Linked DNA regions of Homo sapiens. The protein of the gene in region 3 purifies or fractionates together with the protein of the main gene of each other region. This does not show direct contact. Each region holds a gene or a part of one and is shown on either strand. Other genes may lie near its edges. The genes, in order: SERPINB8, RMND1 and CR1L.

The links.
Region 1: the proteins of CR1L (region 3) and SERPINB8 purify together in Homo sapiens (affinity purification with mass spectrometry; one large-scale study listed by BioGRID and IntAct). This does not show direct contact.
Region 2: the proteins of CR1L (region 3) and RMND1 purify together in Homo sapiens (affinity purification with mass spectrometry; one large-scale study listed by BioGRID and IntAct). This does not show direct contact.

The regions. Positions count from the first base shown.
Region 1 is NC_000018.10:63,983,544-63,987,197, reverse strand, and holds part of SERPINB8 (serpin B8), read right to left. Parts: intron 3,620-3,654; coding exon 3,477-3,619; intron 2,106-3,476; coding exon 1,953-2,105; intron 941-1,952; coding exon of another isoform or gene 932-940; exon of another isoform or gene 548-931; intron 325-547; coding exon 1-324. UniProt on the Homo sapiens protein: Has an important role in epithelial desmosome-mediated cell-cell adhesion.
Region 2 is NC_000006.12:151,424,512-151,428,165, reverse strand, and holds part of RMND1 (required for meiotic nuclear division protein 1 homolog), read left to right. Parts: intron 1-583; coding exon 584-684; intron 685-3,654. UniProt on the Homo sapiens protein: Required for mitochondrial translation, possibly by coordinating the assembly or maintenance of the mitochondrial ribosome.
Region 3 is NC_000001.11:207,648,082-207,651,735, reverse strand, and holds part of CR1L (complement component receptor 1-like protein precursor), read right to left. Parts: intron 1-3,654.

The DNA.
Region 1 (3,654 bases), on a different chromosome or scaffold from region 3:
ACAGAATCTTGGCTCCATTCTGCTGCACCGGGAATTCCTGACCACAGCAGTGGCTGCGGCAGCCTCTGTGCCTTCCTCATTGACCTCCACGAAGCACTTGTGGGCAACCTTGGACAGAGGCACATTCTTCTCAGTTGACATTCCAGAAAAGTCTGCCTTGGCTTCGTCAAAAGCATCGATCATTCCTAATCTTCGAAGGAAAGGCTCCAAGTCATAACTCTCCTCCAGCTTTAATCTGGGAAGGAAAACTTGAACCTTACTTTTTGTCAACTTTTCTGAATTTGTCCAGGCTTTGAATTTCTCATATGTAAGTGCTTTTTCCACCTAGGATAAGAAAGACTCAAACCTTAAAATTTAGATGACAATAGCCTGATACCCACACACCCATTTATTACCCCTCCCCCAATGACATGCAATTAGATGGTGAGTTCTGGTCCAAGAAAATCTACAGATATTTTCTTTTATAAACACACCAAGATTTTCTCCCAAATTTTCATCTTTTCACAGTTTTATGGAGACAAGTGTAAAAGAGCTAGTAAACACCTGAGACAGGCAGAAATTTTTAATAAAAACAATTTGTACCTAACTCCTTTCAAATGTTAAAAACATTTTTTAACAGTTTAGAAAATTCTAACCAATTCATTACATTAATCTTCATGCAATACATACTACTGTGAGTGGGAGAGATTGTTTGACAAAAGACAAAGAGCATGGCTCAGAACTCTGCTTCTGAGTCTAATGAGGGGACTATTCAGGGTTAAATCAGAGGGCAACTCAGAGTAAAAGAGAGGGAATTGTGTTTCATCTGAAGATGAAGGGAGGCATGAGAAGGGAGCATGAGACGAGAAATGGGGAATGCAAGAAGACTTCATCAGCATCCTTGTTTGTCCTCTGCCTGTCCTGGAGTTAGCTTCAAATTCTTCAAGATCCATCACTCTTTCTATTTATCAATAAGGTAGAAAGAAAAAAGGGAGAAAGGCCTTCCACTAGCATCTCCCCTTCCCTTTAACAACTGGAGCCCAGGTGGGTACTCCTCTCCAACGAGCATTGTTTTGATTTTGACTCTATTTCTAGACTCTCCTAATTTTCTCATAAGTGGCCACAACAGATGTCATCCCTGACTTAGGGCAGTAGCTTTCTGATTCCAAAGGGAAGCCAGGAAAATCAAGCAGCCCACCCTCAACATCCTGTGCATTGGTGTGCCAGAGCTGACCCCTATCAATTGTTAAACCCTCAGTAGACTAAAGTCGGCCATGGTGGGAGTATTTACCATGTCATGAGAATCAGCAAACTTTATAAATGAAGGCTTCTCCCACCTCCCAGAGCTGGTTTACAAGTGCACTATTAGTCTTGCACCTCCTACCTTGCAAGTTTACCACTTCCCTTCCTGGACTCTGTTCCTTTTCTGTCACAGTAAGACTTTTCTCTCCTCTTGTATAAGGTAAATTTCCCACCTGTACTTTAGACTTTTGCTATTCATAGTGTGGTTCCAAGCATCTGTATCACTTGGAATCTTGTTACAAATGCAACATCTCAGGCCACACTCCATTGAATCAAAATCTGCACTTTAACAAGATCACTAGAATCATATATGTGCATTAGTGTTTGAGAATCACTGCCAAGATTGATCCCTACCCTTCTTCCAGGACTTTTGTGCAATAATCATTGGGCTTTCAAATAGACCTTCCATGCAGAATAAAGAATAATATTCCAAATAATAATATATTTAGAACTCTCTCTTCTTAGCTTCATCAAAACTTGTCCACTCATATATGTATACACTCAACAGAAATGCATGAACATGTTCATCAAAAGACACACAATGATGTTCACCCAGCACTGCCTGTAATAACCCCAACTGGAAACTCCTCAAATGCCAATTGGTAGATGAACATAAAGAAATGAGCTCAGCTGGACTCCACAGATACTCAGGCTCATTGCCTGGAGCTTACCACGGCGAGGTCCGTGTTGTCATCGGGAAGCAGAATGACCATGCTCAGCTCCTCTTCCACATAGGGCAGCTCCAGGACCTGGGTGTGTACCTCATCCGCATACCCCATTTTAAACTTAGCTTCCTTAAACATCATCTGCACTGTCTTTTTTTCCTAACGGAAAAATTAAAGTTCGATTACTGAAAAGTGGGTATAATTTACTAAAAATAGGATATATCTAACTCACAGAAACTCTAGGTGTGTATAATTACTGTTTCTGCACATTTATGCTGATAGATATAAAATCTTCATTAGTACATCTTAGTATTGAATAGAACAAGCTATTGTTCCAGCAGATCAAATATTACCAGGTGAGAAAAAAAAAACAGTTTGGTAAATGGAGAAGGACACAAAAATTGACATTATCCTTGGAAGAAGCTGTGTTTGCTTTTTTGAGAACATTCACAGAGAAGCTTTCTCATGGAAGCTTCCAACTAAAAATTCTTTATCGAAGTTAAGATAAATATTCAGGCCCTTGGGCTGAAGGATCTGGTTAGAAAAGATGTACGGTCCAAACTCTGGAAAGTTGCCTTGTTGTAGAATTGGTTTTATGGCCTTGGCTTTCTTAGGAAGGGGACCTTGAAGAGATGTGTAAGGTCTGCTGTTTTTAAAGCCTGCATCAAATATATTTTTAACTTTCATATCTTTGTGCAATATGAGAGTATCATATTTGATGGATGTCAAATCCCAAGCTAACAACTATTGATACCAGCCATTTTAATATTCAAAAGGGAAGGTAAAGTTAGGCTTTACATCTGCTAACTTTTTTTTCTTGTGCTCAGGATTGTATAACTTTGACTTTTAAGGCAATAAATAGGCATAGTTGCCACTGATATTGCAAAAAGGTATCTAACTAAATACAGAGAGTAATAGCATCATGCAAACATAATTCCAAGGCTTAGAAGAAATTCTCCTCCAATCCAAATCATATGACCAGAGATGGAAGGTAGATTTGATCAAAGATGGAAAAACAAAACTATCAATACCAAAATTATTTTTGTTTCTCTCTTCCTTCCGCCATTAAAGATACACAGGAGGCATTAAATTCATTCAGAAAAGAAGCCAGGCACAGTGGCTCCTGCCTGTAATTCCAGAACTTTGGGAGGATAAGGCAGGTGTATCACTTGAGGCCAGGAGTTTGAGACCAACCTGGGCAATATGACAAAACCTTATCTCTACAAAAAATACAAAAATTAGCCAGGCCTGGTGGTGTGCACCTGTAGTCACAGCTACTTGGGAAGCTAAGGTTGGGGAATCATTTGAGCCTGGGAGGTCGAGGCTGCAGTGAGCTGAGATTACACCACTGCACTCCAGCCTGGGTGACAAAAAGAGACCCTGTCTCAAAGAAAATAAAATAATATAATATAATTCAGAAATAGATTAAAATCAAGATCATGTCAAATAAATTATTCATTTTTCCAAGAGAATATTTCCTGTAATATTACTTTAAGAAAGTAGCAGTATATCTGAAAAATCTTTCCCTACCTCGTTGGTTTTAAAGAGCATTCCCCTTGTGTACTTTCTGTCAAATTGCTCATTCCACTTTCCCTTGAAATAAATGGCATTCACAAGGACCAGCTTTGTCAGGGGATCGACTGTCCCAGCATCCAGTACCTCTGAAATCTTACCTATAAAGAATATGAGAGTTTATTGCAATTTGTGG
Region 2 (3,654 bases), on a different chromosome or scaffold from region 3:
TTTTTATTAGTATGTTGGGCTTTACTTTTTATTTTTTATTTATTTATTTTTTTGAGATAGGGTCTTGCTCTGTCACACCGGCTGACATTGGCTCACTGCAACCGCCACCTCCCAGGCTCAAGCCAGCCTCTCAGGTAGCTGGGACTACAGGTGTACATCACCACACCCAGATAATTTTTGTATTTTTTTGTAGAGACAGGATTTTGCCACGTTGCCCAGGCTGGTCTTGAACTTTTGAGCTCAAGGATCCACCCGCCTCTGCCTCCCAAAATGCTGGGATTATTAAAGAGATTTAAAGAATACAAATTATAATATTACTAGTGATTTTCCTTGGGTTGTGGGATAATGATAACCTTGATTTTCTTCTCCATTCTCATCTGTGTTTTCCAAATGTAAAAACAAATGAACATGTCATCCTGATTACTTTAATATCACAATGGATTTGATTTGCCTTTTCCTTAAAAACATGCAACAGAAATAATGCCTGTAAGTGTAATGAAGACTGTTATAAGCATTAAAATCATAACATACTTGAACTGAGGGAGTCAGTTATGATTTCAGATTAATCTTCCTTTTCTTCTAGATGAAGCATGTGATGAAAGTTCTAGAAAAACATGAAATTCAGCCCTATGAAATCGCACTGGTACACTGGGAAAATGAAGAACTTAACTACATAAAAATAGAGTAAGCAACTTTTCATCAAATTTATGAAAGGGGCACTTGGAATAAATTAGGTAAAGCAATAGAGGAGACAAATTATTATGCATATGGAAACTTTTTTTTTTTTTTTGAGACGGAGTCTCACTCTGTCGCCCAGGATGGAGTGCAGTGGCACAATCTCGGCTCACTGCAACCTCTGCCTCCCGGGTTCAAGCAATTCTCCTGCCTCAGCCTCCTGAGTAAGTGGGACTACAGGTGTGCACCACCACGCCCAGCTAATTTTTTGTATTTTTAGTAGAGACAGGGTTTCACCATGTTGGCCAGGATGGTCTGGATCTCGACCTGGTGATCCGCCCACCTCAGCCTCTCAAAGTGCTGGGATTACAGGCGTGAGCCACTGGACCTGGCCTGGAAACTTACTTTTAAGAAAAAAGTGGCCAGGCGTGGTAGCTCACACCTGTAATCCCAGCACTTTGGGAGGCTGAGGCAGGTGGATTACCTGAGGTCAGGAGTTCAGGACCAGCCTGGCCAACATGGTGAAACCCCATCTCTACTAAAAAATACAAAAATTAGCTGGTTATGGTGGCGGGTGCTTGTAATCCCAGCTACTCGGGAGGCTGAGACAGGAGAATTGCTTGAACCTGGGAGGCGGAGGTTGCAGTGAGCCGAGATCACGCCATTGCACTCCAGCCAGGGTGACAAGAGTGAAACTCCGTCTCAAAAAAAAAGAGGAAAAAGATTACTGGTACAAATACAAAGTCTAAACCATATAATAAATATTAGAAGATAAACATAATTTTTTGAACTTCTCAGGCTATCCACAAGTTAAAACAAGTCAGTAGTATAGCCCCAAAATGGAAATGTTAAGTTTCTAATCAGCCTAATCCAATAAAATAGTATGCATTTATCAAATGAACCTATCAAATTATTCCAGTAAATTTTTCTCTTAATCCAGTTTTTTCCTATTGATTTTGGGGGGTGGGGGTATGAAAAGGAAGTATAGTGAGGGGTCAATCTAAGAGACCCACTTGTAGAAGTGTGGGTGCTGGAAGAAGTGGGACCTGGTGTACCAGTTTCACTAAGATAAATGGGTAGGCAACAGACTAGCTGATTTTCCTGACTCAGCCAGAGGGAAAAAATGAAGAGATGTTAGGGCCGAGACAGAGGCAGTATGAACAAGATGGTAGTGTCTTTTTCCTCATGGAGTTACCTGTCTAGTGAAATATGAGTCTTTGCAGGTTCTTAAGAAAGGTAGTGTTAGCCAGATTTGGTGGCTCACACCTGTAATCTCAGCACTTTGGGAGGCCAGGGTGGGAGGATCAACTGAGTCAGGAGTTCAAGACAGCTTGGCCAACATGGCGAAACCCCATCTCTACTAAAAATACAAAAATTACCCGGGCATAGTGGCGAGTGTCTGTGATCCCAGCTACTTGGGAGGCGGAGGCGGAGGCAGAGAATTGCTTGAACCTGGGAGGCAGAGGTTGCCATGACCTGAGATCGCACCACTGCACTCCAGCCTGTGCAACAGAGTGAGACTCTGTCTCAAAAAAAAAAAAAAAGCGTTAAAAGCAGAGCTTTGGGAAGACTTGGAAGAGAGACAGAGACTAGCTATAGAAAGACCAGATGGGGATAAGAGCTGAGTAATCAGCGCTCACCACCAATAGGGCCAGTCACGGTTTTCTAAGTAAGTGCCTTCCATGTATTATTTCATTTAATCCTGGGGAAAACCCTATAATTGCAGCTAACTGGCTTTCCGATGAGATTTATTGAATCCTGTCTTGCCAAAGGGCACCTGACTGTGAGTCAGCCTGAGCCCAGTGGTGGCTGCAGTCAGAGGTAAGGATATAAACCTGAGAGAGACAGCAAATGAGCAGCCTGTAGTTTTATTATCTTTAGTAGTTACTCAGCCCTTGGCCTGCAGATACAGCTCCTGTGAATCCCCTTTCTGTGTTCTATTAGGTTTACATTAAAATGGCAAAAACCGCGATTACTTTTGCACCAACCAAATACTTCCATATCCAACTACTGCTAGACCCTTGTGTGTGTGTGTGTGTACGCTTATCCACACACACACACACACGTTACTGTACAGTCTGTGAGGAGTAAAATCCTCAGTGCTTAGGATCCCAGAGTCAGTTATTTTGTTTCGTCAGAAAGACTGTCCTGGCTGCCACCTACATGGTTATTATGTGAGTTCTGCCATGATTCCAGGGATCTGCTCAGCTCTGTGGCATGGGCCCAGTTTACTCATAAAGCATCTTGTGACCAAGCACAGTGGCTCATGCCTGTAATCCCAACACTTTGAGAGGCCAAGGCGGGCAGATCACTTGAGGTCAGGAGTTCAAGACCAGCCTGGCCAACATGGTGAAGCCCTGTCTGTACTACAAATATAAAAATTAGCTGGATGTGGTGGTGCACTCCTGTAATCCCAGCTACTCAGGAGGCTGAGGCAGGAGAATCGCTGGAACCCAGGAGGCGGAGGTTGCAGTGAGCGAAGATCACGCCACTACACTCCAGTCTGGGTGACAGAGCAAGACTCCGTCTCAAAAAAAAAGACCTCTTGTGACTGCTGTCTTTGCTTTCCTTCCTCCATCTGAGGCTGTCATAGCAGATGCCGCCCTCCATCAGGCCCCTTGTCCCCCTCCCTTTGGCCGTCACTTCTTGTCTGACATCTTTTGTGAAGGTTTACCCTGTCTTTTTTCCATTTGCTTGTGATGTTTATATTCACACATTCCGCTCTTCCCCTGTCCCCTGTCTAGGATTCTCCACAGTCACATACTCATTTTTCACAACTTCCTTGCCTCCCTCCCCAACCCCATCATGTCAGTGTGATTTTAGATTACACTCCATATATAGTTTTATATGCAGCATTTTTTCACATAGAAATTTACTGTGAACGTTCTCCTTTTTATTAACTATCCTTCCAAAACACACTTTTAAGTTTTTCTTGTGTGGAGTGACTATTACTGAGCCAACCCCTACTGAACATTTGGT
Region 3 (3,654 bases):
GCATGTCCTATAATAAAGCTACTATATTGCTGTGGTTTTAGAATTTTTTATTTCTGTTTTTTGTAGTTTTTTTTTTCTCCCTATCATTTCTACTGCGGCAACTCATCTTCCTCAAATTATCTGTGGGCTTGCAAAATAAGATGATGGAGACATCAAGTAAAAGCCTAAAGGGCCAACAGAATGCAAAGGCCTCTTCTATAGTGGAAGGACCAAAGTAGATAGATCTATTTTGATCTCCAAGGAGCATTTCTTTTCTTACTCCCTGGTCATGGTCCTGCCTCAGGTTGAGAGACTGGTCAAGAAAATTCTAACCAAGTGAAATCTCACCTTCATTTCATGTCATATTCTAAATTCTAAAATTCTCCATATATATACTGTCCAATATTTTCTTTATATATCATGTCCTGCAATGCACTTATTGGCAATACGTTTTCAGAGGACTTTCTTCCTATGGAAAATTTCAAACTAAACATGCCTACCCCCAGAAAAACAGTATCTTGACTTATTTTTTCTAGATATTTTATATTATAATTAATATTAAGCTACAATACTATACCTCAACAGTAGGTGCCATTATATCATAAGATAGGTGCAGTCAGAAATTTCCCCAAAGTTCCAGGTGAGTTTTAGTAAAGTGAATTATCTACACTGGGCCGGGTGCAGTGGCTCACGTCTGTAATCCCAGCAGTTTGGGAGGCCGAGGCGGGCGGATCACGAGGTCAGGAGATAGAGACCATCCTGGCTAACATGGTGAAACCCCATTTCTACTAAAAATACAAAAAATTAGCCAGGTGTAGTGGCACACGCCTGTAGTCCCAGCTACTCGGGAGGCTGAGGCAGAAGAATTGCTTGAACCCAGGTGGCAGAGGTTGCAGTGAGCTGAGATTGCACCACTGCACTCCAGCCTGGGCAGCAGAGCGAGACTCTGTCTCAAAAAAAAAAAAAAATCTACACTGCATCCACTGAACTGTTCAACTTCTGTACATTCACACCTGCTTGCAAAAAATTAACTAATGTACACGCATACCCACAGCCCTGCCCAGATTAGTATTACCAGAAATTCATGGTATTTGACTACAAGTGAAATGGCAATGAAACCTGACCATCTTGCTCCTTCTCCCACTATCCAATCTATTTAAAACCTTTTTTGCTTCCACAAAACATAAACTCTGACATCTACATATTTCAATTTTATTTCTCACTTCCCACTCATTTTTAGGTCTATGAAAATTACTTCAACTACTTTCTGAGTCATTAAAGGGCCTCCTCCTTGTTAAACTCCTCCTAACAGTCTCTTCCTTAATAGTTTGAATTACCCTCTTGATAACGTGAGAGCTACTGATCACTCTGCCCTCACTCTCTTCTGCCTGAAGAGTTCTCACTCCTTGGCTTTTAGGAGAGCAAACCACTCTGGTTTTCAGCTTGTCCTCTGGCTCATACCAAGGTAATATCCCTGATGAGTCTGTAGGAGGACTTCCTGTGATTCCATTCTGCAGGTCCCCCTGGGAGAATATATACACTTCTGTGACTTCATTACCACTGATAACCAGCTGCCTCCTAGCTGGGTATCTCTCCATCCCAGATCTCTAGCTGGGGTGCCAAAACTACATATTCAATTGCCTCCCCACACAGCTCTACTTGGAATGTGTCACTCTAGCTCAAACAACAAAGGGAGGCCCAAGAGCCACTTTTGACTCTACACACACATACACATACACACACACGCCCCCCAAACAAGTTATGTTTCCACAACTGAAATGCCCGTTTATTCTATGTAGTTGTATCCTTTACTTTTCATTCAAGCCACTATCATTTCTTATCTGGATTACCACGACATAACTAAATAGGTCTCCATACCTATCTTGCCACCTTTCATTCAATTCATTTTTCACATTACCAGAGCAGTATTTATATGACAGAGTAATCAAGGTTTTTCCAAGACAGATACCTTTCGATGGCTCTCCAATGACCTCAGGATAATGTCTAAGGCTTCCTAACATAGCTTAGAGACTTTTAAATCCCATCACAATCAGAACCCAAGAATACATTCCAGTTAGGTTGGCAGACCCAGGAGGCAGGCCAGTCAACTAGGTTCCCAGGCCACACTGCTGAACCACTACCAAACTGCTTCCCATTACTGCCATTCATCTGGAGCTCCCACATGCTGAGACCGACAAACTCTATCTGCAATTAGGTCCTCAAGAAATTGCCTACTACTGTGTCTCGGGAAATTAAAACAACCCTAGTTTGGAGTCACGTTGTGCTAAGTCAAACAAAAGGGCTCAAGCTGCCCTAAAAGGACAGGGAATAATACCAAAGTCTGAGTTTACGATGGTGATTGTTTATTCCTGACAAGCCTGTTGCTTTTTAGAACTGCTCACCCTGTGATTTATTCCTCTCCCTTCTTTGTTGTCTCCTTTACCCTACTCTGCCACACTGAATAGCTTGGCAGTCCAGCAGTGTCACATCTTGGTGCCTTTGCTCACCTTGCTTCCTCTGCTCTGAATACCCTTCCTCCCTGGCCGGTAGCTACAACTCCTGCTCAGCTCTTGTCTTCTTTAATCCACCCATCATCTCCTCCAAGAAGCATTTTCTGCCTCCCCCTGGGAAGCAGTGATCAGTCACCTTCCCCTGGACTCTCCCCTGCATGGATCTCTCAGGTAATTATCACGTGTTTTTGAGTTTAATAGTTAACAAGGCCGACTCCATTCATCCATGTGGCCACAACACCCAGCACAATATGTCCCTCATAGTAGCTATTTGAAAAAAATTTGGTACTCAAAGTCCACTGCTGTCAAACACAAAACAATGTGAAGAATATATTGTAATCAATTTCATATTGAAAATAATCATTCTACAGAACAATGGAGAAAGAAGATTTAGCCATTTCTTGTGCTGCCTATCTCCCAGTCTTCTGGTATCCTGGCAGGTGACCAGATATGGACTGCTCTTTTTGCATTGTAGTATGCCGAGTGAGGAAACTAAGAAGCAATAAGAACTTACTGGTCTTGGCTTCTTTCATTGAAAATAAGGAAAACACCTGAAATAGGCAGAAGAGACCACACACAACAGGAGATCGGGGGTTTTGTCCAAAAAAGCAGCTCCTCTTCTGGAGGAATGAATGAGACTGGCCTGAAATTTGACACATGTTTCCTTCTGCTATCTGGAACCATTTGGCAACTACCTTTGAGAGGGCAGGTCTCCCATGCACAGCACCACCTGCTTACAAAACCTTATCTTTGTGAGAGTGAGTTGCTCCAAAAATTGAATGTTTATTTTAATTCATGTATTCTCTCTGCCTAGCATCGTGAGTTCTCATTTTTACTTTCTCTAGGTTTCATACCTGTCTTGATTTAACCCTATCAACCTCAAACTTAACCTTATTTTTCCTTCTCTTCATTTTTAGTTTTGTTATCTTCCATGTTGCACCCTATTCATTTTATAATTCTATGTTCCTCTATTTCAAATTGCTTTCATTATCTTCTTCAACTTCCAGGTTTTTTTTTTTTTTCTGTGTGTGTGTGTGTGTCTGTGTGTGTGTGTGTGTGTGTGTGTGTGTGTTTGAGACCGGGTCTCACTCTGTCACCCAAGCTGGAGTGCAGTGGTATGATTAGGGCTCACTGCAGCCTTGACCATGGGGGCTCCAGTGATCCT